Homo sapiens: one gene and its partners. The protein of the gene in region 1 purifies or fractionates together with the protein of each later gene. This does not show direct contact. Each region holds a gene or a part of one and is shown on either strand. Other genes may lie near its edges.

Region 1 (7,995 bases):
AACCGAGATCACAACACTGCACTCCAGCCTGGGCAGCAGAGCGAGACTCTGTCTCAAACATACACACACACACACACACACACACACACACACACACACACAAACTGATCTCTGCCAGGCACAGTGGCTCATGCCTGTAATCCCAGCACTTTGGGAGGTGGAGGCGGGCTGAGGCAGGAGAATCGCTTGATCCTGGGAGGTAGAGGTTGCAGTGAGCTGAGATCGCACCATTGCACTCCAGCCTGGGCAACAGAGTGAGACTCTGTCTCAAAAAAAAAAAAAAACCCAAAAAAACAGCAACCAAAAAAACCTGATTTCATGGGGGCAAGATTCAAATGTCAACTTCAGTTTGAGATTAGGAGGCCCTGATTCATTAAACCGATAGTTATGTATTGGACCTACCATGAGTTGAATGCATGCATACAGTGTGGTGGGAAGGGTCTGTGAGCTCTGAGAGGCCAGAGTTTGAGAGTCTGGCGGTGCTTCTAGTCATAACAGACACATAATAGGACATAAAAGGAGTAGTATTTACCTACTAAGTTCCAGGCCTATGATAATGCTTTACACTCACTGGCTTGCCAAATAACTTATAAACTATACAAACTTTATTATCAGGAACTGTTATATTTAATAACTCAGGCAAAATATTCACATACTCTTACCAGTACTAATAGTCATTACCATGATTGATCTTTTAGGCTGTCTTTGACAAACAGAAATGGACAGTGTCGTACGGTTCCAGCATTTAACCTCTCCTCCACCTCAATCTTACTTCCCTACGTTTCTCTTTGCCTCTTCTTTCTCACTTAGTTTTGAATCAATTATACTTTGTCGATCTGTTAGCTGTCTTAGATCCTTTTAGGAGCAGCATACAAATAGAAAAATACAGTCTCCCATATCCCACAACCAAATATAACCACAATGAACATTTTTGTGTATTGCTTTCCGGTATTTTTCTCTGCATATTTATGTACATATTGAAGCCAGGTTGAAGACAGCCTGTAATTATGTCAGCCCTGTGTTCTGTTCCGTTAGCATTTCTCCATTTAAACCTGACTCTTTGAAGTCCAGTGCTGTCTCATGACTAGATAACACATTATTTGACTTTTCTGGAATTCTGGCTGTATCTAAGGGGATAGGTTTCCTGTCACTGAGCCTGACTGAACAATTCTGAGATTATCAACACTGCCATAGGGCCCCGAAAAAGCGTCTAATGAATGCAAAAGTTCAAAGCGGTTTTGTTCAGGTGTTATTTTTGGAGACACTTTCTCAGGCTTTTATGATGCAATCCACTTTGTGCCCCTCTCTTGCAGCAGCTGCGGCCAGGGAAAAAGCACTAAGTGGGCTTGCTCACTGGTCCTCAGGGGTGGGTACCCTGGGCAGGTCAGCCCAGAAGTCAGCTGCCTCCTCTCCAGGCCCTGCCTGGACAGCTGAGAGTCAAGCAGACAGTTATGTGCCATCCCTACCTCTTTTCTGTCTTCAGTAACTGGCAGCTTCATCCTGCCAGAGAGTTTGGAATGAGCTAGGACTTTCCCATCAGTCTGAACTCCTGGGTTTTCCCAGGCCTGGTGACTCAGAGGGTAAGGCACCGAGCCGAGGAAGAGAAAGGAGAACCTGGACTCCTGGGTGCCTTTGTCTCACCACACAATCACCTCCCAGGAAGGCTGTCATCCAATCACTCCTGTGGAATCTCTCTGCCACTTTGTTGTAAAGAAAGTCAGCCCCAGTGAAGGGTAAAAAGAAGTGCCAGAGGGCCTTGGGGACAAGCCATATACTGGTAGAAAGGGCACTGGGGCAGGGTCCGAACAGCTGAGAGTATGTCTAGCACCAGGATGAAAATCAGTAGTTCACAGAGCTGCTTTGTTTGACCTACTCCGTATTTTTTTAATGGTACATTTCACATAAAGACCTGTATATCTGGCTTCCCCACAAAAGTCAAGATCTGACAGCATCTGACTATATTTTCTCATGCAATATCTGAAGCTGGGTAGCAGCCAGCCCTGGATGGGGTGTTTCCTCTCCAGATTAACACAGAGCCTACCAACTTGTTAAATCTCACCTCATAGGACAATAGGCGCAAAAATATACTGAAATGAGTTGAAAAAATGGTAATACTTTTTTTTTTTGAGACAGAGTCTCACTCTGTCGCCCAGGCTGGAGTGCAGTGGCACGATCTTGGCTCACTGCAAGCTCTGCCTCCCAGGTTCATGCCATTCTCCTGCCTCAGCCTCCTGAGTAGCTGGGACTACAGGCACCCGCCACCATGCCCGGCTAATTTTTTTTTGTATTTTTAGTAGAGACAGGGTTTCACTGTGTTAGCCAGGATCATCTCGATCTCCTGACCTTGTGTTCCGCCCGTCTCGGCCTCCCAAAATGCTGGGATTACAGGCTTGAGCCACTGTGCCCGGTTTGGTGACACTTTTTTGATGAAAGTATTTTTTTTTAATTTAATTTTTTTGAGACAGATTCTTATTCTGTCATCCAGGCTGGATTGCAGTTAGCTCTCACTGCAACTTCCGCCTCCCGGGTTCAAGTGATTCTTGTGACTCAGCCTCCTGAGCAGCTGGGATTTTTTTATATTTTTAGCAGAGACGGGGTTTCGCCATGTTGGTAGACGGGTCTCCAACTCCTGGCTTCAAGTGATCTGCCTGCCTCGGCCTCCCAAACTGTTGGGATTACAGATGTGAGCCACCACACCCAGCCTCGATGAAAGTATTTTAGATGTTTGTATTTATACATAAGGCTCTATGTTTGAAGTACTAAATGGTGAGAGTATTTTGTATCTCAGATGGAATAACGATAGGAAAATGTTCTTCAGCAAATTGTACTCTCCTAAAGGGAGAGATTATAGAGTGATGAACACAGACACGCCATCTACCTTTCCTCCAGACTTTGTAAAAAAAAATTATATAAATTACAATCCCAAACTAGAATCAGATACCATCCCTGATCTACTACCAAGATCTATACACATTAAGAGAACAATGTTCGGGATTGAACCTGTTTTGCCTTTTTAATCGGAACACAAAAGGGATACCTTTTTCTTTCTCCAAGTTTTTGAAATTTTGGTCTCCCTCCTACATTCACTCCTTGTTGAAAGTAATGGAAAGGCAATTAGGTCTGTGTCCCAAATGAAAGCCCACAGTCAGGAGGGGATTCTCATTGAGGTGACTGTCCTGTTAAGACCTGCTCCTGTGAACCCCCAAGCACAGGGCAGAGCAGGACATGAACTAAGAGCCAGGCTTTGCCGAATCCGGGTCGAGTTCACCGACAGCAGTGTGTGCAGCACGCTTCCTCCTCTGCACCCTGGCAGTAGAGCCCTTCCTCATTGTAAAGCCAAGTGGTGTCTGCAGTCCGCCTTGCCCAGGGCTGGAGGCAGAGCTGAGCTTGGTGAACAGGTGCCAGGGGATTCCTGTCATCAGTGGACTATGCTTTAGAAGCTGCTTGTTGCAAAGGTACTGGTTGATCATTGTCTGAGAGTTGGATCTGAAGGCCAACACCCACTAGCAAAACCATCATCCCTGTAATAACAGCAACCCAAGCAGATTTGATTTCTCCAGTGAAGGTTCTAGATGAGTCTAATCAAGGCTTCCCACCCATCTTCTCCCAACACCAGAGTTTCCCTGTGAAAACGATCATGGTTAACTCGCACTGAATACTATTTATGTGCCAAGTACCATTCCACATTCTTTACATATTTTAGCTCACTTTACTCCAACGGGGACCATTATTCCCAGTTTGCACATAAGCAAATGGAGCCAGGGAAAGCAAGGGGCAGAACAGGGAACTGATTTCCCGGAGTTTCGGCCCAGAGTCAGTGTGCTTAGCCACCGCCAACACCAGCCCCAGAGCTCTAGGCTCCTGGAAGTCGTGCTCCCGAGTCCTTCCCCTTGCACAGTGGAGAGAACTCGATGTTGGAATGAAACCAGCTAATTCCAGTAGGGTGCTTCCGCTGTTGTGAGGAGCTGGGCAACTAGTAAGCTCACTGAGCCTCACTGTGCTCCACTATAAAACCAGGAGAGTGCGCAGCAGAGGAGAGGGTCTGGGTTTCAGAATAAGAAGCAGGTTTTCTTCCTGCTCAGCAAATCCTGGGTAATTGTATCATATCCCCTAACCCCTTAAACCTCAGCTAGAGAGGGCGCCAGTCTTAGCCCCAGGGAAGGCTTTCGTGTGCACATTGGAGACAAAGCCTGCCCAGCAGTGCCCGGCACAGAACTGGGGAGCTGTTGGGATAAGCATGGGGGTGGACTCTCCCTGGGACAGATCCTATCTCACAGCAGTTTGGAGAACTGTTGTATACACACGCAGGTGACACGAGGCAGAGCAGGATGTGAAACGAGCGCAGTGGTTTGCCAAACCCGCAGCAGGCTTAGGACGGAGTGGTGAGAACAGCCCCCTTCCTTTTCCTCAGCTTGACGGTCCCAGCCTTTCCCATTGCGGACCTAGAGCCCAGACTCCCAGGGCAGAAAGCGCCCCACAGACTGATAAAGGTGAACAATCCAGGCTTTGTTTCCAAGGGCTTTATCCCTGACTTTCCAACTGGCTTTTATCTGTGTCTTCACGTCTCTGACCTCTTGAGCCTCACAGGAGCTAGACTAGAAGGTTCAAGTTCTTGAGGAGAAGGCAGGGGCGGGAGAGCCCCACTTGCGGGAATCTCGTGCGGACCGAGTCGGGGCGGGAGAGGGCGCGCACCAGCCAGGCTAGGGCGCGCGGGGCGCCGAGGGGCGCGGGGCCGTTTGGGGCCGTTCGGGCCAGTTCGCGCGGCGGGGCCCGTCGGAGCTTTTCTCTCGGCAGCCTGGCTGGCCGCGCGTCTTCTCCGCGCAGCGGGCGAAGTCGCGATGGGTTCATTAAGGCGGCAGGTAGGCAGTGCCCCGGCGGCGGCTGCGGCAGGCGGTCCTGGAATGTGCGAGGGGCGTGATGACAGCGGCCAGCCTCTTTGCGCAACACCTTCGCCATATATACCCGGGGCGCTGCGCTCCACCTGGCCGCCGCCTCCAGCCCAGCACCTGCGGAGGGAGCGCTGGTGAGTACCGCCGCCGGGGCAGGGGCGCTTCCTCGCTCTTTCAAGGACTTTGATTCACTTAATTCTTGCAAATACCTCTCGGTGCTGACTTCAAGGAACTTGGCTGGCTTTGGGCCGCAGAAGTGAAAAACACAAAGCTCTCCACAATGTTCAAGTTGTTTTCTTCTTAATGTTACGGTTATTGCTTTTATTACAGCTTTTGCTGCTACACTCTTACGATCGACAGTGTTATTAATCAGCCACACTTGTGGATTCTAAAATGATCACTGTTTTGAGAGTCGTGGTTTGGAAGAGGAAAGGCCCAGGGGATAGAAATCTCCACCTAGGAATCAGGATAGCTAGGCTCTTTGTGGCTGGGTCACCAACTAGCCATGTGACAACGCTAGTCCCTGTGAGCCCCTGGGCTGCCGTCTTCCATTCTTTATAAGAAGGGGAATGCGACATCTCAGGACCATGAAAATTCTAGGTTTGTGGTGGCTGCCTGGTGATGTGACACTGCCCCCCACCCAAGTGTGACTTCCACGTGGTACAGTGCTTGTTTGCAGTTATTTAAGGTGCCTAGGAGACAGTCTTAGTTTGTTTCTATTAGGGCCCGTGGCCATCAGCGAAGGGTCCGTCCTTCAGCCGTCTTGGGGAGCAAAGCCCGCAATTTATGTTTTCCAAGCCACAAATGGGTGAGCAGGCTGGGGAGATAACTTACAAGGAGATGTGCACAGGAGTGGTTGGGTTCGGGGACTGCGCATCCTCAGGCCAGAAAGTTGGGGGCTGCATGGCATGGAGTTAGTTCAGGTTCCCTGCAACGGTGCCTGCCACCGGTGGCTCGCACTGCGCTGAAGAGAGTTGGAATCTCGTTTTCTTTGAGGAGGTCCCTTTTTCAAACATGTTGATTTCATGGAAGCAGCTTGTGGATTTCATCACTCGAGTCCCCTCTTCCTGTTTGGGTGCCCCAGGGGGTTTCTGTGTTAGCCCTGATCGCTCTGGGCCTTGTCGTTCTTTCCTTTTTCCTTCTTCCCTTGTGTGCTGGCAGTTCTTTAACTTGTCCTGGGTTGGGTATTCTTGGAAAACTGTGCTTGTAGGAGTGGCCGTTGTTTCAGATTGTTAAAGAAAAACAAAAATAAAAAAGATTGCCTCTTTTGTCCCATGCCCGCTGATCATGATCTTCTCTGCTTTTGTAATTTGGGGAATGGGTGATAAGAAAGGCGTGCTTTGTAAAAGGTTTGGATGCTAAACAAATTGCCCCATCCAAAACTCCCCAAATTGCTCAACTGTCTCAATGAAGCAAGTCCCCTGTGGTATGAGGATGGGCTTCTGATTGTTGCTGTTAGACACAAAGGGGACAAAAAAATAGCCCGAATTCAATGCAATGAGGAAAACAGCCTCACAGAATCAGAGTGCTTTGGAATAAACTGGGCTTTAGTAACCAGTTTCAGGCATCTTCCACTCCTCCATCCTCACCCACACCCCCACTTCCATTCTGGGGACCGCAGGGAGCAATCAGGACATCCCAGGGAATTTATTCATCTCAGTGAATTTTTAAAATGCAAAGGTACAAAAAGAGGGCTATAAAAAGATTGCGGTATTTTTAAGATGTTTATATTTACAAATTTAACTGCTTTAACCTCCCCCCCCAATACAATGCAGCACAACTGATATAGTTACAAGTTATTTACAGGATTTATTTTAAGATATCATAAATACAAATTGATAGTGCATGGTGAGGGTGTGGTTTGGTGATATGGCCCAAGTTTAAAGTTTATTAGTGTGCCACATCAAAAATGTAAACTCAAGTTATCTATCAATGTGAGGCCCAGGCCAATTGCTTCCTTGACTCCTCTCATCACTACCACCATTGTGTCCTTGAAGAGATTATTATTAGCAGTAATGTAGGGACAGGGTCTCACTATGTTGTCTAAGCTGGTCTCAAACTCACAGGTTCAAGGGACTCTCCCACTTTGGCCTCCCAAAGTGCTGGGATTATAGGTGTGAGCCACCACCCTTAGCCTATAGGGGTGATTATTTTTCCTTGTGATGGCTGTAAGGGAAGCAGAGGAAAAGGAGACGTCACCCTCTTGGGAATTTTTGAAGCACAGAGTCATTCTTTCAAAGTACAAGAAAGTTTTCCTGGGCATCCCGAGAACACTGGCCTGCATGAGGTTGAAATTATCTCTGCAGTGTTGTGGTGCCTATGTGATTTGAAGCCATTAACCTCTCTGTGGCTCAGTTTTTCCCTCTATAGAATGAGGATACTGTTCATTTTAAAGGAGACTCTAAGTTTACATAGATACATGAAATGCTGTGAGTAAATTTGTGCACCAATTTGCAAGTGCCAGGCACAAAGTCTTTAATAAACACTACTTGGCTACCATGTGCCCAGCACTGTCCTATGTGCTGGGGATACAATGGCCATACTCTAGTCCCTGTGCTTGTGAAGGCTGCCATTCTGATGGGAGACTGTGTGTCCATGTTCTGGTTCCTCACAGGACCACTGCCCTGGGCTTCCTCCTCTCCCCATTTCTTCAGATGGCCTTGACTGCTGCTCTGGGCACAAGGGGCCCAGGAACAGGTCTTGGTTGGAGAAGCCCAAACAATGCGAATGTAGGGGTTGGGTGACTGCCAGGTACCCTACATTCCCCTGCTTCCCAAGTCTGAGCCAAGTCAAGAAAGTTCCTCTCCTGGGTCTTCAAGAAAGAATAAGAGCTCTTTCTGGCAGTGGGTGCCCATGTGGTGCAGGAAGTGGAGCCAAGAGGGTGAGGCACACAGGCAACTCGGTTATAGAGGCCAGTGTGGCAGCGGGGGAGCCCCTCCCTGGGCTTTAGTAAAAAGCTTCCAAATGATGACTTCTCCCTTCCTCTGCTGCTTCTGGCAGGTGGCAAGAATGTGCTGGAGTGAGGCCTTGGGAAGGCTGGGAGAGAACAAGGCAGTGGTTGCGCCAGGGCTATGGGGGTAGGAGAAAGGCTTAGAGGGGCTCAGAG
Region 2 (7,024 bases), on another chromosome or scaffold:
TGCCCCTGACCCCGGATGTAGCTGCCTTTGACCCCAGATGTAGCTTTCTCCAAACCCAGATATAGCGGCTGCCCCCTTGCCAGAGTGAATACTGCGTCATTGTGGCTTCTTCTTGTCACTGGTTCTTACTTAAAAGCTGAGCTGGAAGTTCTAATGGGCAGTTTTGTCACCTGCTCTTACCTTGTTGCAGTCTAGATGAGGTCTAATGTTCATAAGCTAGGGGATTTTCAGATATGGAAAGGGATACCAATTTTCAGCAGCCAAATAGAGTATCACATTTTCACTCCATGTTTCCTGGGTGTCTGTTATGTTTCCTGGGTGTCTGACTCTTAGGCTTCTTTCAAGCTGCAGTCTGCCTAATAGAGAGCCTTGCATTTAATCATCAAAAAGGCAAAGCAATATGAATCAGCAAGGGTGTTTTGGGAAATAACAGCAAACCTGACTGTGGCGTAAGCTTGTGGTATTGTCTCCAGTGTGATCAGATCTGTATTTTAATTTTTTAAATGTAAATTAATAATGATCTGTGAATCACCAAAGTAGCTTGGAGTAGCCTAGAAAACAATGTATGTCCTCCGTTTTCACAGAAGCCACATAGTCGTGGGTTAAATGAGTCAGCGGCAGGGCACTGTGTCTCATAGTTAAAAAAAAAAAAAAGTATTACTGAAGTAATGCAGGATCTTTTCTGAAGTAGAAGGCATGATGAACCCAGAAAACTAAAGCAGCAAGTGGCCACCGTTCTTAGCATAGTTGTTTCTCAAACTGGAACAACCTATAAACAGTTGTGAACAAGGTATTAGAAGTGATGGGGGCCGGGTGCGGTAGCTTCTCCCAAAGCTCATTACCTCCCAAAGCAACCCCAGTACTTTGGGAGGATCACTTTGAGCCCAGGAGTTCCAGACCAGCCCGGCCAACATGGCAAAACCCCATCTCTCTAAAAGTACAAAAAATTAGCTGGGCATGGTGGCACATGCCTGTAGTCCCAGCTACTTGGATGGCTGAGGCAGGAGAATCGCTTGAACCCGGGAGGCAGAGGTTGCAGTGAGCTGAGATCACGCCACTGCACTCTAGCCTGGGGGACAGAGTGAGACTCTGTCTCAAAAAAAAAAAAAAAAAAAAAAAAGTGATGGGAATAGATTGTTTTGTCTCAAAAAGCTCTTTCCAACACTAAAATGAAACATATAATTAAAAATATTTTTCTGGCTATAGAAATATCGATGCTTATTATAGACATCTGCAAAGTATGAAAATATATGAAGAAAAAAATTAAAATCCCATCATCCCCCATGAAAACTATTGTTATCATTTTTGTCTGATTTCTTTAGTGTTTCTCTTTTTCTTTTTTTAATTTTTAATTTTTTTGAGTATGTAGTAGGTATATCTATTTATGGGGTATATGGCATATTTTGATACAGGATACAGTGTGTATTAGCAAGGTTTTCTTTTTAATGTTTATATTTATTTAGTTGAGATCATACTATATATGGCTCTATAGATTACTTTCTCACTTATATTACTAACTTGTGTTATTAAATATTCTGCATAAAGATAATTTTAAGATGAAATTTGATGTTATAAAAACTTCTCATTTTATTAAGAGATTAACGCTATGAAACCTGCTGCTATATATTCTTGGAACCAGCTGTGACCCAAAAGATCAATGTAGGGATGTAGGTCCTTCCCCATTCTCTACACACAAAATCAGATACTCTGATGTGCAGCTGTAGCCCCAGTCTACACTGTCTGTTGTATTTTTTGTTTTCTGGTGTCATGTGCCTCCCACCCTGCTCCTAGCAATTGCCATGACAACAAATAGATAATTGGCTTCCGTAATTTCTCATCTTATTGCCTAAGGCAACAGAGAGCTTGTGGGCTCAGCTTGCGGTTCAGCAGCTGCTTTGTTGCCTCTCCTCTGTATGTGTGAGGCCTGCCAGAGCCCACTTTCCAGACAGGTGAGAGTTCATTCATTCACCATGCAGTTACCGATCGTCTCTTGACCTGTGTCCTGGGGAGGTAAAGGTGATGAGCCAGTTCTGCCCCATGCAGCTCACAGTCTAGGCAAAGCTACATGCAAACAAACAGAATCCAAAGTGCTATCATGAACCCTCTGAGAGGGGCTGACTCAGCAGCCCAGGGAGCTTGAAGAAGGCTCCACAGAGGAGGCTGTGCCTCAAGGCGATTTCGGTTTAGGAGCCACCAATTTATAACCACTTTTCTGTGGCCCGTCTTATTTTATTTCTTATTTCTTGACAATCAGAAGTACCTTGGGTAGGTTTTACCATGCACATCGTAATTTGAGTGAGCTTAGTGTGAGGCTTAACGGTGTGTGGGCTGTACATCCTGGTCAGATGCTCTAGATGGAGGCAGATGGTTGTGATGCAGGAGAGGCAGCCACATAGCACAGGTCCCCAGCCAGTGGACTGGGAAGACAGTGTAGTCATCTCTGGGGAAGGGGAATGACAAGATCTGGCAGTGTGGCAGGTCCCAGAAAAAAAGGGCTGGGTTCTGGGCAGTGAGGGTGCAGGTTGAGACCTGAATACTGGGTGGAGCCAGCTGTCAGAGTCCACGCCTGCAGACTGGACTGGTCCACGGCAGGTGGATGCCATGTCTTGAAGACCCACAGGCACCCACTCATCCTCATGATCATGCAGTTCTCTGGTTTCTAACAGTGCAGTCTGGGTTGCAGTCTGGGAGTCCAGCAGAGAAGAGCAGGCCCTGGAATCCCAGGTGTGGGGGCGTGGCTTAACGTGGAGTTTCCTTCAGAGGCAGTGAGTGCTTGTCATTGTCTCCGTCAGCATTGGCTTTGGGCCTAGTGTGGCCTCGAACCTTCTGTTGGGATCAGCAGTGGAACAGTAGGAAAAGGAATGAGTAGACATGGCATTGCAACAAGTCTTTTTTTTTTTTTCTGTTAGAATTATCATATTAAGCAGAAGTTTTGCTTCACAAACTCTCAGCCAAATACAAAATACTATGAATAGTATTTACCTTGTGTCTCTTTCCAAAGAACTCATAGTGGTTTGCAGCTATTGCAGATATCCTGGCCATGAGGTATGCAGTTCCTTTTTTTTTTTTTGAGACGGAGCCTTGCTCTGTCGCCCAGGCTGGAGCATAGTGGCGCGATCTCGGCTCACTGCAAGCTCCGCCTCCCAGGTTCGTGCCATTCTCCTGCCTCAGCCTCCCGAGTAGCTGGGACTACAGGCGCCCACCACCACACCCGGCTAATTTTTGTATTTTTAGTAGAGACGGGGTTTCACCGTGTTAGCCAGGATGGTCTCGATCTGCTGACCTCGTGATCCTCCCGCCTCGGCCTCCCAAAGTGCTGGGATTACAGGCGTGAGCCACCGCGCCCGGCCGCAGTTCCTTTTTCTAGCTGTTTGAATAGGAAAGATGACTTGGAAAATGCTGGATTCTGAGCAGATTTATGTGCAGCCTTAAAAAGTGTAGTTTTTCTCTATCAATAATGAGTGTGGGTTGTAATTGCTTAGTAAGTAATTTTGTTTATGTAAACGTACATTTGTTAAATTTTTTTTCTTAGGTAATCCCGTTTGTTGGCACCATTCCTGATCAGCTGGATCCTGGAACTTTGATTGTGATACGTGGGCATGTTCCTAGTGACGCAGACAGGTAAAATCACTGTGCTAAAGGAAGGAGCATGAATAGGCTGTCTTTTTGTGATTGTGGAATGATAACAGAGTAAGGCGGGAGAGACCATTTGATACTTTGAGGCCCAATTAGCTTTCATCAGCAGCCCTGGCCAAGGTGCTGAGGAGATTGGAATGAATGACTAAATAAAGGTTATTGGGATTTATTTCATTGCTGTAAGTCTGATTTCAGTATAAAAAATTAGAACTATCAGCTGGATGTGGTGACTTAAACATACTTTTCCAGCACTTTGGGAGGCCAAGGCAGGAGGATTGTTTGAGGCCAGGAGTTTGAGACCAGCCTGGGCAACATAGTGAGACCCCCCATCTGTAAAAAAAAAAAAAATTTAAAAATTAACTGGCTTGGTGGTGTGCGCCTGTAGTTGTAGCTACTCAGGGGGCTGAGGTAGGAGGATTCCTTGAGCCCAGGAGTTTGAGGTTGCAGTGAGCTGTGATCGAGCCACTGCACTATAGCCTGGGTGACAAAAAAAAAAAAGAAAAAGAAAAAGAATTAGGTATGTCATTAAAGAAAGGAATTGTGGTCAGATGACAGGGACAGTCTAGTTTTAGTCTGACATTCCCACAGCATTACAGATCTAGTTCAGATGGTTTTACTGAATACCTGCTTTGGATACAAGCTGTGGTATCATTAGTGTTGGGCTCAGCTCTGTGTACCTAACACCTGAAGAGCAGTGGTTTAAGATGTGAAAATTAAGTCTCAAGGAGACAGCCCAGGCCTTTTCAGTTAACTCCTTCAAGTCGTTAGAGAAGTAGACTCCTTCGAGCTCACCACTCTGTTATCTTGAGGGTGAGGTAAGGTCCCCTTTCCCGTTTTCCTTGGCAGCCAGATTTCCAGCCCTCACTTCTGTGCTTTGGGTAGCTGGATGGGTGCATGTGGTGTTTGCGGGGAAACAGAGCTGGACAAAAGGCAAGTGCTTGCTGACTTCTAAGGCAGTTTCCAGTAGCCTTCCCTGAGCACTTCACTTCCATCTTACCAGCAGAGCTTTAGCTGCACAGGCAGGCCTAGCTGCGAGGGAGGCTGGGAAAGGTAGGTTTTTATTCTGGGCAGATTCAGACCCAGTTCAAACTCAGGGGCTATTTTACTGAGGAAGACAGAAAAGATTAGACAGTCAGCTCTTTAGGCCTCATAGTGAATGAATGAGGAGGGATTGGTCAGTCCCTTGTCACTGGGCCTGGAGTGTAGTGCCTGCTGGTCCTTTACTGGTGGCTTTCCTTTCTGAGCACTCATGGGGCCCCTGTGTCTTCCCTCATATAGATTCCAGGTGGATCTGCAGAATGGCAGCAGCATGAAACCTCGAGCCGATGTGGCCTTTCATTTCAATCCTCGTTTCAAAAGGGCCGGCTGCATTGTTTGCAATACTTTGATAAATGAAAAATGGGGACGGGAAGAGATCACCTATGACACGCCTTTCAAAAGAGAAAAGTCTTTTGAGATCGTGATTATGGTGCTGAAGGACAAATTCCAGGTAGGTTTTGGAGAGGGACAGGTTGAGTCCTCATTAGTGAGCAGGAGTGCACAGGGGTGCTTTTCACATTTGTGAGCCCAGCCTTATATTTCCTACACCTGAGATATAGTTTGTTTGGCTTTGTAGTTTTTCTCCATAAAAGGACCAGGAAGGCACCTAAATGTGAGGTATGGCACCACTACTCTCCAGCCAGTTGTTGCCATGCAGAAATATGGTCCACTGTGACCAGATCTTTTTATTAGATCCTATTTCTCCTAGCAGGGCTGAGTTCCGAATTGACACAGTATTATGTTCATGATGGGAGGGTAAGTTATAATATAACCGCCACCACCCGAAGAGCTAACAAGGGCAATCCCAGCGAAGAAATCAGAAGGGTTTTGTAAATTCAAGTCTTGCCACAAGACAGTTCCGTAGGATCATGAGATTTTAGACCCAGAGGAGATCCTAGAAATCCTTGATGTCAGTTCCATCTCTGGCTTCATGGAGTGTCTTGTACCTAGCGTGTATGTGTACGGTTGAATTTGGTCCCAGAAGCTTACACCTGCTGGCCCTCTGGCCTGTGGAGCTTGCCCACAGTAGAGGTATGTACCAACGCGAGAGAAGACTCGAATGCCTCTGGCGCAGATCCTTTCTGATCTTCGGGATACTGCTCCTGCCCGAAAGTCTTTCTGAATCTCCCAAACTCCATTCACCTCTCCCTTCTCTGGCCTTTTGAGCCCGTGTCTGTATCATTCTTTTTCACAGTTTTTAACAGTTGTGCTTTGGCTTTACGTGTTTATTTTGCCTCCACAATGGGATTTTAAGCTCCCTGAGTCAGAGACTATATTGTATGCTGCTCGCGTTTTCTGCCTATAACCTAACGTGGTACCTGGCATTTGAGAGGGAGGGAGGAGGAGCCTCGTAGCGTGCCGAGGACCTGCAGAAGCTACTTTCTCGTCATCTTACTGTAGTCTGTTGAGGTAGAGACTGTTCCTACTTCAGAATAAGAAAACCGAATTCAAATATGTTGGGTAACTTGTCCATATTAATTTATTTAGCAAATACAACAGATTTTGAGTGTCTGCCACATGGGTGGTCTCCAGGGACAGTGTTGTGGGGAGCTCGCAGGCAGATCTTTAACCTGGGTTCACAATCTCCAGGGCACCTGTGCCTGGGCTTCCAGGCGACCTTCGAACCCAGATGTCTCACATGTATGCAGAGGCGCACACAAGCACACGCACATATACTTATGACTGCCTGTTTGTCTGGGGAGAGACAGTTCCTGGTGCTTAATCAAATCAGGAACTCAAAAGAAGTTTGGAAGCACTGCTAGTGTTTTGGGTGCTTTCGGTTACCATTTGGTCATGTGTGTGGAGACCTGTGGGAACAGGTATAAAACTGGACGCAAGGAAACATTTAAATTTGGATAATAAGTTAATTTATTAACTGTTTTTTTTTGGTGGCGGGGGGGGCTCTGTCTTCTGTATCTCTCTAGGTGGCTGTAAATGGAAAACATACTCTGCTCTATGGCCACAGGATCGGCCCAGAGAAAATAGACACTCTGGGCATTTATGGCAAAGTGAATATTCACTCAATTGGTTTTAGCTTCAGCTCGGTGAGTGACCTTCCACAGCTTGGGGTCTTTTATGAGGATGGTTTCTGATGAGATGGTAGAAAAAATCTTCAAATAACACTTCTATTGACATAAAAAGGACGTATCTCCCTGACTGTAGTATTAATTTTTTGGAAGTGAACTGTTCACACTAGCAGAAGGCTGTTTATCAGCCAGGGCTTCATTGTCTGTAGGATCTCAAACCTAGTGTGGTTTTAATAAAACACACACAGTTTTTAGCTGGGTAGCAGCTATTTCCTTTGCATGGGCATAAAATGGAGTATTTCTGTAAGACAGGTTCCTAGGCT
Region 3 (7,024 bases), on another chromosome or scaffold:
TTTGACATACTGCTAATTGAGCTGGTGTCAAAGCTCTCTAGATGACTGCAAAGGAATGTGGAAATTTCATTCTGTTTTAGCTCATTATCTCCTGTTTACCCCACCCCACTGCCGGTTGCTAGCTATATCAATTTTTTTATTGCTTTAGTTACTCTTTCCATGCTTTCTCCTGCTTTCTGTACTTTCATTTCCTTTATAAAGTAGTTTTAACACCTAATCTATTAACTCCTAATATTTCTGCTTCATAGAAATACTTTTATCTCCGATGGTTGGATACAAGTGTTTGAGCACACCAAAACGTGCTTACAGTTGCAGTCTTGAATAGATAGGTTTGTGCATTAAACACGGGGGTGGGGAACTTGGTATCATGCTGATCTTGTCGCAGGGTTTTTGCCCATAAAATAGAAGATAGAAACAATTAAAATCTTTTTCTCAGAATCTAAATATTCTCTAGCTTTATCAATTGGTAATTTGCATTCTATCAATATGTCTATCAACTTTCTTCATTCCACCAACTTTCTTCATTTAAGGTAAAAACAAGAAAAAATGTAGTTGTCAAAACATGAATAAATTATTTACCTTTGAAAGTTTAATTGTTTATTAGAATCTTCTGGAAACAAATGTTACTTTAGCTGGTTTCTTTTTCTAAGCCCATTTTAGGTCACTAAGTAGACAATATGGGTAATCTTTATTAGCAGAGTTGTTCAAGTCATCCACATTGTTGACCACTCATCTTCTGTTTTGCTTGGGCAATGCCAAAACTGAGTCTGTAAATTACCTTATAATTTCAGGCACAGAATCAGAAGGAAAAAAATAACCTTAGGTTTGCCAGTTAAACTTTATCCATTTTCACTTTTCTGGGTGTTTTAAGGGGAAAAAAAATAATACCTTACCCAGGTAAAATTTAGCCTATCTTTCTAAAGAGGACTCTGTAGGAAAAACAGGGAAACCAATCAAATTAGGTTGTAAGAAAGGAAGTTAAGCATTGGTCAGAGGCAAATGGGACTGAAATGTGGTATCACCAAATGTTTTCCCATTGTTATTTTTGATTAAGTTTTTATCCTGCAACTGCTTAAGAGCAGTCAGTCCCTTCATAGTGTATCTGTACAGTTGCATAGGGGAGATAATTACTTCAAGATAGATTGGTGATTGGCAATGGACCCTGGACATAACTCTTTGACCAATGGATTTTGAACAAATGTAGGATAGTGAATTAATGATTAGAGATAAGTCTTATTTTAACGAGAAGCATATTTTAAAGCTATTTTATTTAAAATAGTCAATTTTCCCATTAACAAAATAATTTCAAATTGATATGTAGAGAAATAGTAGTTGGCACGTAATAATAGACTATTCCTATCTCTGACTCTGCTTTTACTTCAGAAAATAATGTCTTCAAAACTAACATATCATTTCGGCTTCGAATTCTCAAGTTTTCTTTTTAAATGTCTTACATTTGAGAGATTATTTACTTTTTTTTTTTTTTTGGTTTCTGCATTTCTCTTTTTTCTACTGCAATTTTCCACCTTTTGTGCAATTGTGAACAAGGTAACGAAACGCCTCCCTTCCTCAGGAACATCTGCTATCTTCATGCTTTCTCAAACTTCCAGCAATCACAGTTTCTCTTGGAGTGAATAAGGTGATTTCCTTTCTTAATGTACCAACTTGCTTGCATTCTCATTTGCCTGACACCATTTTCTAATTCTTTATGAAAAATTACTTCTCATGACTCATTTTATATCTTCTATTGATGCTTAGAGTATTTTGTCATTTTCTTTTAATCATGTGTTCACCTTCCAAATTGTCACACTGGAGAGGAAGTAATTTTTAAAAGCTTGGACTACGGGTCTGTAGTCTTCATTGATCCACGGTATGCAGTGGCCATGGCGTGTTAGAGCTAGTCTGTTCACCAGGACAGGAATGTTTTGCACAAATTTCTCTTTGTTTGATAATACGGCACCGGCACAACTCTCAGAGGTGTTCACCAAAAGGATGGTAAGGTTTACTAATCAAACCATATTGACTCATCTTACCATATTACTTACCAGTGCCATTCCAAAAACCCAAGTTTACTACATACTACTGTTGTCTGTTTACTTCTACCACAAAAACAATTCGAGTTGGAGACTTTCTTAGGCCTTTGAATGTATTCATTTGAATGTTATACATTTACTATATAGTGTAATCATTTGTACTTTTGGCCAGAGGAGTAGTCTATAGGAAATGATTTTTTTCTTTTACCTTTTTTTAAATATATAATCACCAGGTAGGTTAACCAATTTTCAAATGCTTTAAGTATCTTTGCCTCACTATTACAGAGAAATCTGAGCTGTAGAAGGGCATCTGACTCATTATCCGCCAGACCTTCAGTCAGACCTCTTCTTTTACGAACATTCTCAGACGAATCTAATGTATTGTAACAGGTACCTAGTGTTAAACAAATGGGCTGGCTTTAAAAAATCGGATTAACAGCATTATAAAGAAAAAATGAAAATATCACTCTCTAAATTTTCTCTGCTGTTGGTGTGGTGAACTTTACAATATTCTTTGCAAAAATATAAAGATGCATTACTTGGAATATGGGGAAATATGCATTTAAAATATTAAACATTAAAATATGATAAGCCCCCCAAATAAAATGTTAAACATTTTTCAGAGCCAAATGTTGATACAGCATATTTAATTTGTAAGGGGCAAGTTGTCATGGCAAGGCCACCATGTGAAAATGTTTGTTAATATTGATCAGGAAATATAACTTTGATTTATAAAGATCATTTGGAAAACTAAAAGTAAATATTCCAAAATTGCATCTGTATAATATCAAGCCAATTTAGCATTGCATGTTCTCTTGGGAATTATGTGAAAATAACTAAATGTGTTTGTACCTTCATGTGCTGTGTCTGTGTGTTTGCAGGTACTGTATACACTTATGTCCTTGTAAATGTCTGATCTCCAAATATATATCAATGAACCAGTCTAATCATAACTTTTTTAATGTCAAGTTTTATTCAAGCTAAATGTTTCAACTTTCAGAGGTAAAATATTTCATAGCCATTCAGGGGGATGCTTGCCTAATGATATAAAATGCTTTATAATTAATGTTTCCAAAAATGATTAAATTCACTTTATAATGTTTCATTTACCCCCAAAAATATTTGGGAGGAATTGATACGCCGTGGGAGGGCCCCTTGAACTCAGAATGACTCCTTTATGTATAGTCTGTATTTCCTTCAGTGGGGGCCTTTAACAACTCAGACCTCTGGAGGTCTTTTATCCATCCATAGGAATTTAGAGTAATTAATGAACAAGGCTTCCAAGCTTGTCAGCTTGGAAACAACTCTACACAGCTTAAAGCAGGGCCATCTTTCATGCACACATAAAAATTAATGATCATCATGAATACAATTGTGGGTTAGTTCACTTTGAAGCTAATAATTGCGAGTCCACCTTATAGGCCCATTTTTTTCAACAGCTGTCAACTCTGCCACCCTCTAGCAAAGAATACAAGTTAAATTAATGGATTGACTCCATTGGTTCTTCTGTCTTCCTGGAGTTCATCGCAGTCTACATCTGCACTGTTATTTTAGAAGCAGACTCATTTTGCCACAGTTAGCATCTTTTTACCCATTTTTGAACAACTTACCTGAGTATGTTTTCCCTTAGTAATGAATCTGCTTCACAAGTAACCTTCAAGGTCTTTGACCCCTTTGTCCCAGATTGCCTCGTTCTAAGCTGTGTGATGCATTTTAGCTATATTGTTTCTGGCTAATTTTGTATCCCCCTGGATTGCTCTCTTTAGCTTGGTCTGTGGTTTGGGGGACTGGGCTGGATAGAAGACACTGCTGTTGCTTTTGGCCTCTCCAGGGCCTTATCTCCTACAATGTCTAACATAGAACTGAGGAAGTATTTTTTAAAAACAATTGTCTTATTTTTAATGTAGTTATTTCTTCCAGGAATAGATTTTCATGTGGCATTATTTCTCCTCCAAAGACAATAATTAGCAGCTAGTTTAGGCATCTAGTTTGTTCCTTGGTTGGTAAGGAAACTACCTAACTCCTCAATGTGAGTTACATTCTCAGTATGAATGGCAACCTTATTTTGGTTAGAGTCACCATGACCCTGCAGAGCTACCTGAAAACCTACTAGTGGTTCTGGAGAATGTGGAACATAAATAGAAATGGAAGGTATTCTAATGAGCTTCTAGTCCAGCCATGGCAAAGGAGGTGTCCCAGAATGGGAAGAAAATAGCATACTACTTAAGACCTTCCACTACTCAGGTTCAAAAAGATTGAGTTTTAGAGTGGAGAATCAGGCTCCCTGTTTTGACATATGACTTCCATTTCTTAACATACTTGACTTACACTTAATGATCAGTTTGTCTGTCATGCACCATCCTGATCATAGCATTTGATGATGTTTAGAGGACAGAGAAGAATCTACAGATTTGATAGGGAAATATCCGTGGTTTCTCTTCCAAAAAGATGAAGCATAAGAAAAAACAGAAGAATCAATCGACTCATAGATACATGATCTACCAAAAGGAAAATTAACTTCCATATTGTAGGGGGGAAATATGCTTCTTTCAGTAAAAAGGAAGAATATTTTCACAATAATCTTCCAAAGCTGAATATATCTTCAGACTTCCTCTGTCAAAATTAACACATCAAGAAAAACAGCAATCTAATCATTCATCAAACATTTCCTGAGTATCTGCTGTGTGCCAGACACTATTACTAGCTGCTGGAGATAGAAGGTAAATAAAATGTTCCTGTTTTCAAGGACCTCCCAGCCTAGAGGAGAAGGGATCACAGCAAGCTAAACCTCTGCTATGGTAAATAATCCCAGAGGTAGAAAGTATTAGGAGAACCCTGGAACAATCCAAAAGCAAAAAGCAAGCCTGAATCTATTCAGCTGACAAATGAAGAAAGGATTAAAATCTGGTTATAGTGTCACTCTTTTTTTCCCCTGCATGTGAATAAAACTTGGCACTTTGTTAAGACAGTTGCTTTACTCTCATAACAAAATTTACTACTTATTTCTGAAAATGCTTAACAGATGGTTTCACATTATTAAAATAAGCCTTTTAAATCTGTATATTTTACATTTTTCAGAATCCGAATCTTGAACTGCCTATGTTATTGTCCTACAAGCATACTGACAGTGGTTACAGCTAAAAAAGAAAGCATGAAGAAACAACTACAAAAAGTTATCATCTCAGGATACTTGATACGCAACACACTAAACCACTCTCATGTCTAGAGTTCACAATAAATGTTCATTAAAATACCAAATGATTCTCTTAAGCATTTACCATTATTGTAAGTAGCCTTTATGGCCAAAGCTGTAAGTTAAGAATTATATGAAAGTTGAAAGCAAGAATACTTAGAATTCTGGCTTTAGTTAGAGTAATATAACTCAAATGGGTGCTCTTTTAACCCATGAACTTTGTGAATGGATTTAAATACAATAGTATGAAGTAGAAGTTATGCAATGAGAATGAATAGATTTTGCTAATACTACTTTTTTTGCCTGGCAGAAGAAATAGACTATTTGGATCACATTTCTCATTCCTCCTAAATGATCATCTTAATTTTTTTTCCCAAGTACATAAGGAATACTTGAAAATACAGAATAACTAAATAGTATCAATGCATCAGACAGAATAGTTAATCCCTTCTGTTTACCCATGTGCTACTAATGTCTTGGTAGAATATTCTTGCCAAAAAAATACCTTGAACGCTTATGTGGAAAGTGTTAACTTACGGGTATTTTTGTGGGAATAGAAAAAAATTGTTTATTTTTTATTCTTCTGAATTAAACCCCACTTATGGGTGTAAGCCTACTAGACTTGAAAATAAAGTATAAAACATTTCCAATCACTTAGTAGCCCCTCAAAGTAGTTAGAAAATAAACAGATTTTTCCAGTGTTGATTTTACTGGGATCTGCAGTAAGGTGGTTTAAACCATAGTTATATAAAAATAAAGGTCATTCTGAATATCAGCCTTTTATAATTTTATGTGAAGAGGAAGAAATATAGCTTATTTTAAACTTTTGACGGTTTTTATTTGAAAGAGATTGCATTTATGCATATATGCAGTGCTTTTTCTTAAACTTGGCCAATTTGGAAAGGGGGAAGGAGCCACCCCAAAACGGTGGTTCAGCTTGTAGAGCCATGACTCTGTGAAGATGAATGTTGTCTCTTAACTTGGACAGGGAAATGGTCTAACTCTAAACCATGTAACTGACCTTAGTAAAGTCCTTGACTAACTGAACTAGAAGGAAGGTTTAGCCTTCTAATTAGTTCACTTGAAACATAAATGTGAAATGTCTTCATTCAATGTTAAACACATACTTTTTTGGATATAAATGACCATATTTATTTGACTGCTAGTTTTTTTGTTTTTTTTTTGTCTTTCTGGCATGCCTGTACTATTATTAATGTTTATATTGTACCTTGATTTGGAAAAGTATTGGAGTTAATCTGTATTATATTTATATAGTCCATATGGCACATTTGATTCTTCCACATATATTTTGTGTTAATGTTTAGGTATGATTTTTTTCTAAATTCTAGAAAAGAACATAATTTCAGTTATCAGAAGCCATTCCATCATTATAGACCCTTTTTCATTATTTCATTTGCTCTCATATATCAGTATTATTTTTGAGCATTTTGTTACATGTCATTCACAACTTACCTAAGTGTGCTGTGTTCTGGTAGCCCGTATTTGAGGTAAGCTGCTGAAAACAAAAGTCTCTATATTCTTTGCCTATTCCAAAGAGCTAAAAAAGTCTAACCCAGGAAAGCTTTTGATATTTTGTGTTTGTTTTCTTGTTCTTATGGTTGTTGTTGCTGTATTATGATTGCTGTTTTACATAAAATCTATGGGAACTGTGAATACAGACAAGAGAGCCACAGTAGAGAGGCTTGTTTAATGCAGTACCATTGGAGAGTTAACAGAATAATCTAGTAGAAAAATAACTGGTTGCATGTAAAATTCCTTCCAGCCAGAAAGAAAGAAA
Region 4 (7,024 bases), on another chromosome or scaffold:
CCCTTGGCGGCTTCCAAGCATTTTATAATGCTGAGTCTCCTTGTACCCACATCACCTTTTTATGAGGTCAGTGTTACCAAGAGGACCCGCACACAGGGGAGGAAGAGGCAGGAGACCAAAGGAACTCAGTGCTTGCCTCCAGTGATGAGTCAGGCAGGGCAGCAGTGACACTGAATTCCCAAAGCCCAGTTCGGCAGCTTTTGAGTCCACACTGCAGTTTCCCTTTGAAAAGAATCTCCTAAGTCAAAGATCACAGAAACTTAGTCACTCTTGTGCTGAAAATCTGTAAAGTGTTGCCTGCCCAGCCCCTACAGGACAAAGTTCACACTGCAGAATGCAGTTTACAGGCTCTCCATAGCCTAGCTCCTGTCTCCAGCTCCAATCTAGTTTCTCACCATGCTCCACCCTCATATTTTATGTTCTAGCATTATCCAGCTGCCTGGAGTTCCTCTCATAAACCAGACTGTTTGTGATGTCTGTTTCTTAGCTCATGCTGATTCCCTTTGCCCAAATTCCCTTTCTACACAGACCCCATCTTATCCTTCACTTCCTGCCCTTACTCCATCCTTTAAGACTCTGCTGAGGTGTCACCTCCTCCAGAAAGAATTCCCCACCTGAACTGTATCCACCTCCCAAGTTAGGTTCACCCCTTCAGTGCTCTTATAGTTTTTCTATTTTCATACTTACCATGTTGTTTTGTAATTATCTGCTTATGTATCTGTCTCCCCAACTTGAGCCCTTGAGGAATGATGATTGCATCTTACTCATTCTTTTCCTAGTGCCCAGCTTATAGAAAGCACGCGATAAGTGTTGAATAAAATAATTTGATGTTGGGAGGATCAATCAGGCAGGAGCAGGTGAGATGTTCTGCTTCAGTTTTCTCAGTGGGGCGCTTCCTGTTTCAGAAGCTTGCACCAGGGCTGGCCAGCAGCAACTGTTACAAACATGCTCCCTATGCAGAGCTGGAACCCTGCTCTGCAGCCACTCCATCAGTCTTAGCTTTGGCCTTTGAAACTATCCCAAATGATTTTGATCTCTGCTCTGCCTACAGGAGATGGTTTGGAGGAGTTCTAGTCAAGACTCCAGAAACCTGAGAACTGGATTCTGGTTTAGTGCAGGAAGCCTCAAACCTTTTAGTTTGTTGACTCCTTTCCACTTAATGGAAGAATTTTTAGATAAGATGCCAATGATACCTTTCTAAAGTGCATTGCTGATTTATGCCAGAAGCCAACATATAAAGCTCTATCATTTTATAAACATGGAAGGAACTGAATATATAAATTATATAATTAATATATTATACATATTAATTATATAATATATAATTTATATATTCAGTAACAATAGTGTATATTTGTTCAATCTTAAAAAATACTGTGAGGTAGATATTATCTTCATTGTAGAAAGGAGGAAACTGGCTAAGGGAGGTTAACTGAGGTGTTTTAGGGTCACACAGCTTATTTTTGAACTCATTACTGATTACTCTTCTGATACACTGTGGAGATTCTTTGATCTCACAATGGATCCACTGCGCTAATGGTCTTAGGACTCTAATTTTCATCTTTTATGTGAGAATTCTAATTTCTACTCCACTTCTATTTTCTGACAGTCATAGGACAAGTGGGAGCACTTACTTGGCTGCATAAAGGTTGCTCAAGTGTCACTTTACTCTGGAATGAAGGGGATATTCTGGTTAACTGCAAAAACATTTTCCTGGAGGGCACAGTGAGGTCTTACTTCAGATCTTAGTAAATGCAAATGGTTGTTTCAAGTTAGAACCTTGATTAAGTCCTTGATTTTTAATTTCCATCCATGGCTTATACAACCTGAAACAGAAATACTGTTCAATTTGTTCCAACCTCAGCCTTCTTTTCATTGTGTCAGAGAACAGATATATAGAGCATCATACACTTAAATCTCTGTGTAAGGAATGCAGTGAACAGGACAATCCTGATTCTTACTCCTTAATTAAGAGACTTAATTCAGATCCCTGCTCTTCCATTTACAAGCTATGTGACTTCCAGCCCCATTTTTTGGATCTGTTCATTAAAGGTTGTAAAAGTGTTTATAGAGAGGTTGTGACAAATAAACAAGATAACACATGAGAGCATGTGGCATGGTACCTGGAATATGGTAAACTCTTAGTAAATATTAATATGTATATAAGGTGTTACTTCAGTAGGTGCTAGGCGTGTGCACGCACACACACACACACACACACACACACAAATGGAATGTTGGATTAGATAGGTGACATCTACAATTCTGCAAATCTCTCCTAAAAAGTAAAATATCTATCCATGTATCTTCTCAAATGCTTGGTGTATGTCCCACATTCATACAGTAGCTGCTTCATAAATGCATGATGAGAGATGAAATGTGTGGAAGATTGAATGAATGGATGGAGGGTGGATTTGAGTGATTAAAAGCAAAAACAAACCAAACAGGTACCAAAGACATCTCCACCCTCTCTGTCCTGGAAAACCAAGAAGTGTGTTGTCAGAAAACAGTGAGCAATGGCATTCCAGTCTATTGTGCTGAGACTGGATAAGACTGGGAAGTGCCTGACCCAGGGGATGGTTCCAACCTTTGTTGAATTTTTCCCTTCTGGCTTTTTCTTCATCTTTGGATTTAGTGTTTCCTTTTGTTTTGCAGGCCATTCTCAGGATCAAGTTAAGGTATTTACCTGCGTTGGCAGAATATTTCAGGGACATCTGTCCTGAAGCAGTCCAGTGGTGACAATTCCCTATACTATTCTTTCAGTTTAGACTTATATCTGGACAATCTAGGCAAGGAACTATCATTTATTGATCCCTTACCATGTCAAAGGTCTTCACATTCTAACTCATCTCATCTCTATAACAACTCTAGGTATTATGACTTGTGTTTTATAGTTTAGGAAACTGAGGTTCGGAGTAGTTAAGTAACTTATCCAAGGTCAAACAGCTTCTAGATGGCAAAACCTGGACAGGAGTTTATGACTGCCCAAATCCAAAGCTCTTAACTCTCTTTATTCTCTATCACACTATTTTCTAACTAAAATGTTAGTTTTTTCTCTCCAGAATCCAAACTGGCTGACTAGACTTGTTATTTTATTTTTAATCCAGTTCTTTGGATGGTTTATGGTTTCACTACTAACATACCATTCTGTATGTAAATGCCAGCTTCAGATTTCTTTTAGCTCCGTTACTGGTGATTCATGGTGATTGAATGGAGCTTTCCTTAGGGAATTGAGATTTTATTCTTTGGGCATAAAATTTCTCTTCCTTTTAAACTCTCATCTCTGAAAGTGAAAATTTTAGAAAGTAAATCCTCTTATTTGCCAGTAGCATTTGTTTTCAGTTATCTGGTCTATCTTCTAGAATTACTGTTAGTCAAGAAAGCTTTTTTTTTTTTTTTTTTTTTTTTTCAAATTTCCTCCTTCAAGATGCATGTTATATCTTCTGAATGGTGACTTACCCTTTCATTTTCATGAAACTTAACATCTGTCATAGTAATAATTCATTGCCTGTCGATATATCTATTTGGCCACTGAAAGGAAGGAGAAATGAAAAAGAAACTGACTCATAGGCTGAACCAAGAATAGAAGCACCGTTTAATATTCCAGTCATGCTTCATTGACCTAGTGCTGAACAGAAGTGTGGCTCAATCAAAAGGTCAAACAGAGGGTAGTTTATATTTTTAATCAAAGCTGAAAATACGGGTACATTTTACTTTGTAGAATAAACAGATGGCTGAAATATTATTTGAAAATATAAATGTAATTACATGTTTCAGTTGACTTATACTTTAAGGGCTGATTGGTCTTCAGTTTTTATTGACTTCCAGTTGGCAGGGACACCTAATGCTTTAAGAAAGCCCTGAGCCCTCTGTCAATTCATTTTAGTCAACAAATCTTTATTGAGCATCTGCTATGTGTGAGGCACTATTCTAAGTCCTGGAAAGAGAGCAGTGGTTACAGACAAAAATACCTACTCTCATAGGGTTTATATCTAATAGAGAATATAGATTATAAAATAAATAAATAAAAGACAAGGTGCCAAGCATGGTGGCTCATGCCTGTAATCCCACTACTTTGGGAGGCCAAGGCGGTCTGATCATTTGAGCCTAAGAGTTCGAGACCAGCCTGGGCAACATGGCAAAAACCCATCTCTACAAAAATTAGCGAGGAGTGCTGGCATGCACCTGTAGTCCCAACTACTCATGGAGGCTAAGGTGGGAGGATCATTTGGGCCTGGGAGGTAGAGGCTGTGGTGAGCTGAGATCATGCCACTGCACTCCAGTCTGGGGGACAGAGTAAGACCCTGTTTCAAAAAAAAAAAAAAGGCATATTAGACAGTGATAAGTGTTAAGGAGAAAAAGCAAGGAAGGAGGCTATGAGATATCAAGGAAAAGGTGAAGTTTAAAACAAGGTTTCCATCCAGGGAAGAGATCACTGAGGAGTTGACTTTTGGGTATAGACATGAAAGAAGTAAGAAAGCCAATTATGCAGGCATCTATAGAGGGGGAAAACGTTCTGGGTAAAGGGAATGGTAATTGCAAAGGCCTGGAGGCATGAGTGTGTTGAGGAAGAACTAAGAGGCTGGTTTGGCTAGAGAAGAGTAAATGAGAGTAGCAGGAGATGAGGTCAGAGAAGTGGGGAAGGAGACGGCAGATCATTTAGATTCTTCTGAGCTATTTGTAAAATATTGGGGTTTTACTGTGTGTGAAGTGGGAAGCAATTGTGCAGGGTTCTGAGCAGAGAGCTTCGATGTGATCTGGCTTACATTTAAATAGGACCATTTTGGCTGCTGCATTGAGAATAGACATGTGGTGTTAAGGGCAGAAGCAAAGAAACCAGTTAGGAGGTTTCAGTGATCTGACAAGACAGTAGTATCTTGGATCAAGATGATAGCACTGTATATTCTGGATATATTGTGAAGAAAGAGCTCATAGTCTTTGGAGTGAGAGAAAGGGAAGAGATGACTCCAAGGGTTTGGGCCTGAATAATCAGAAGAATGGAGTTGTCATGAATAAGACAAGGATACAAAAGGAGGGGCTGTTTGGGGGCCATATCAAGAACTCGCTTTTGTTCATAAGAGCAAGAATATAATACTGGTTGAGTATCCCTAATCTGAAATGCTTGGGACCAGAAGTGTTTCAGTTTGAAGATTTTTTTTTGGATTTTGGAATTAGTGGCTGAACCTCCCAAATCTGGAAATCTGAAATCTGAAATGCTTTAATGAGCATTTCCTTTGAATGTCATGTCAGTACTCAAAAAGCTTTGGATTTTGGAACATATTGGATTTTGGATTTTCAGATCTGAGATGCTCAACCTATAGTGGCTACCAGGGGCTGAGGGGTGGGGAAGATGAGGAGCTCTTGTTTAATGGGTATAAAGTTTCAGTTACATGGGATAAATCAGTTCTAGAGATCTGCTGTACAATGTAATGCCTATAGTTGATGATATTGTATTGTGCACTTCAAAATTTGTTAAGAGAGTAGATTTCATATTAAGTTTTCTTAATACGCACACAAAACAAACAAAAGGACACAAGGAAAGTATGGGAGGTGTTGGACATGTCTCCCTCCTTGGTTGTTGTGATTGTATCATGGGTATTTGCATACATCCAAACCCAGCACATTAATTATGTGATGGGTTATTACATATTTATTGCACATTTAATTCATCACATTAAATATGTACAATTCTTTGTATATCAGTTATACTTTGATACAGCTGTAGGAGGAAAAGGTACTCCGTTTTGGGCACTCTGAGTGCGAGATACCTTCAGGTATTCAATTGACCTTCAAGTAAGTACAGTCTAGAGCTCATTGGATGCTTATCATATGGCAGGAGGCACTTTTCTAGTGTTTTTTTTTTCACATGTAATTTCATGTAATCCTCAGCATCGTCAGAAATAGGTACTATTATTATCCTTCTTAGAGGAGGAAACAGGCCCAGAGAGGTTAAACTACTATTGCATTTTTACACAGCTAAGAAGAGGTGGGGCTCGGGTTTGAACCTGAGCTGTCTGACACCAGAGCACACATGGACTGCTTCTGTTGCAAACCTGTTGATGTGTTGGGTGAGCTCCTATTGAATGCTCTTGAATGAAGTTTATCTTTTAAAAGTTCACATGTTCATTTACCAGGATTTTATAGAGGGTGTGTTTCTAGCTCTGGCAGTCACACGCCCATGAATATCAGAGGCTCACCACCTCCAGGTGTACCTTTGTGGCTATAGGAAGGGTGGGGTTATTGCAAGTACTCCATTGGGCCGAGGGTGCTCTGCCCCCTTGTACAGTCTTGTTCTATACTGATCCATCTTGAGCTCTTCCTATTATCCTTATGCAAGCAGACATTTTCCATAAGGCACCAGGTTAGAGCTGGGAAAAATGGATCACCCAAAAACTGTGTTAACTCTGTTGAGCAACAGATTTTGTCCCCTGCATCTCAGTGAGTAGCGGAGATAAGAGGGTAGGGGATAGAGTCTTGCATCTCTGGGCGTATGGAGACATTGCTGCCAGACAGGCTGTTGGATTGGATGTGGTGCATGAGCCTGAGGAGAGCCCATCTCCTGTCTCAATGCCAGCTGTCCCTAGGGGTGGGAAGGAGGTGCCCAGGCCGACTACACCCTCCAGAGCTCCGCTCCTTGAGCAGAGGTGGCAGACCCACACATCCATCATCCAGCCCTAGTCTGTTCAGGAGCTCCTTCTCTGCAGCCAGCTTGGCTCCCAGGAAGGAAGACCAGCAGAACACTTAAACTTAATAACCCAGTAATGCAGTAAGTCCTACTTTGGGACAAGAGGAGGGACTTTGCTCTAACTCAGAACGTATACCTCCTTGAACGTGCCAAAATTCCTTTTTCCTTTATGACTGTTTAGTAAGTTAAAGTCCTTCATCTTTGCAGGTTCTTGCATTTGTCCCTATACCGACTTTATCACAGCTTGGTAAATGTGCCTTCCCTCTATGTTTGTGAGATGGCAGCACTGGTTTCAGGAAATCTGCTTGCTGTTATCTTAGTGTTTATAACTAAGGGATC

What was found.
Region 2: the proteins of SLC34A2 (region 1) and LGALS8 purify together in Homo sapiens (co-immunoprecipitation; 2 studies listed by BioGRID and IntAct, with this or other methods). This does not show direct contact.
Region 3: the proteins of SLC34A2 (region 1) and ATP11C purify together in Homo sapiens (affinity purification with mass spectrometry; 3 studies listed by BioGRID and IntAct, with this or other methods). This does not show direct contact.
Region 4: the proteins of SLC34A2 (region 1) and ENDOD1 purify together in Homo sapiens (co-immunoprecipitation; 4 studies listed by BioGRID and IntAct, with this or other methods). This does not show direct contact.

The regions. Positions count from the first base shown.
Region 1 is NC_000004.12:25,650,868-25,658,862, forward strand, and holds the start of SLC34A2 (sodium-dependent phosphate transport protein 2B), read left to right. Parts: upstream 1-4,983; 5' UTR 4,984-5,023; intron 5,024-5,596; exon of another isoform or gene 5,597-5,697; intron 5,698-7,995. UniProt on the Homo sapiens protein: Involved in actively transporting phosphate into cells via Na(+) cotransport.
Region 2 is NC_000001.11:236,533,965-236,540,988, forward strand, and holds part of LGALS8 (galectin-8), read left to right. Parts: intron 1-3,532; coding exon 3,533-3,621; intron 3,622-4,914; coding exon 4,915-5,125; intron 5,126-6,599; coding exon 6,600-6,719; intron 6,720-7,024.
Region 3 is NC_000023.11:139,727,050-139,734,073, reverse strand, and holds part of ATP11C (phospholipid-transporting ATPase IG), read left to right. Parts: intron 1-1,548; coding exon of another isoform or gene 1,549-1,638; exon of another isoform or gene 1,639-1,639; intron 1,640-2,318; coding exon 2,319-2,420; 3' UTR 2,421-2,423; intron 2,424-5,111; coding exon of another isoform or gene 5,112-5,174; 3' UTR 5,175-7,024. UniProt on the Homo sapiens protein: Catalytic component of a P4-ATPase flippase complex which catalyzes the hydrolysis of ATP coupled to the transport of aminophospholipids, phosphatidylserines (PS) and phosphatidylethanolamines (PE), from the outer to the inner leaflet of the plasma membrane.
Region 4 is NC_000011.10:95,092,844-95,099,867, forward strand, and holds part of ENDOD1 (endonuclease domain-containing 1 protein precursor), read left to right. Parts: intron 1-7,024. UniProt on the Homo sapiens protein: May act as a DNase and a RNase. Plays a role in the modulation of innate immune signaling through the cGAS-STING pathway by interacting with RNF26.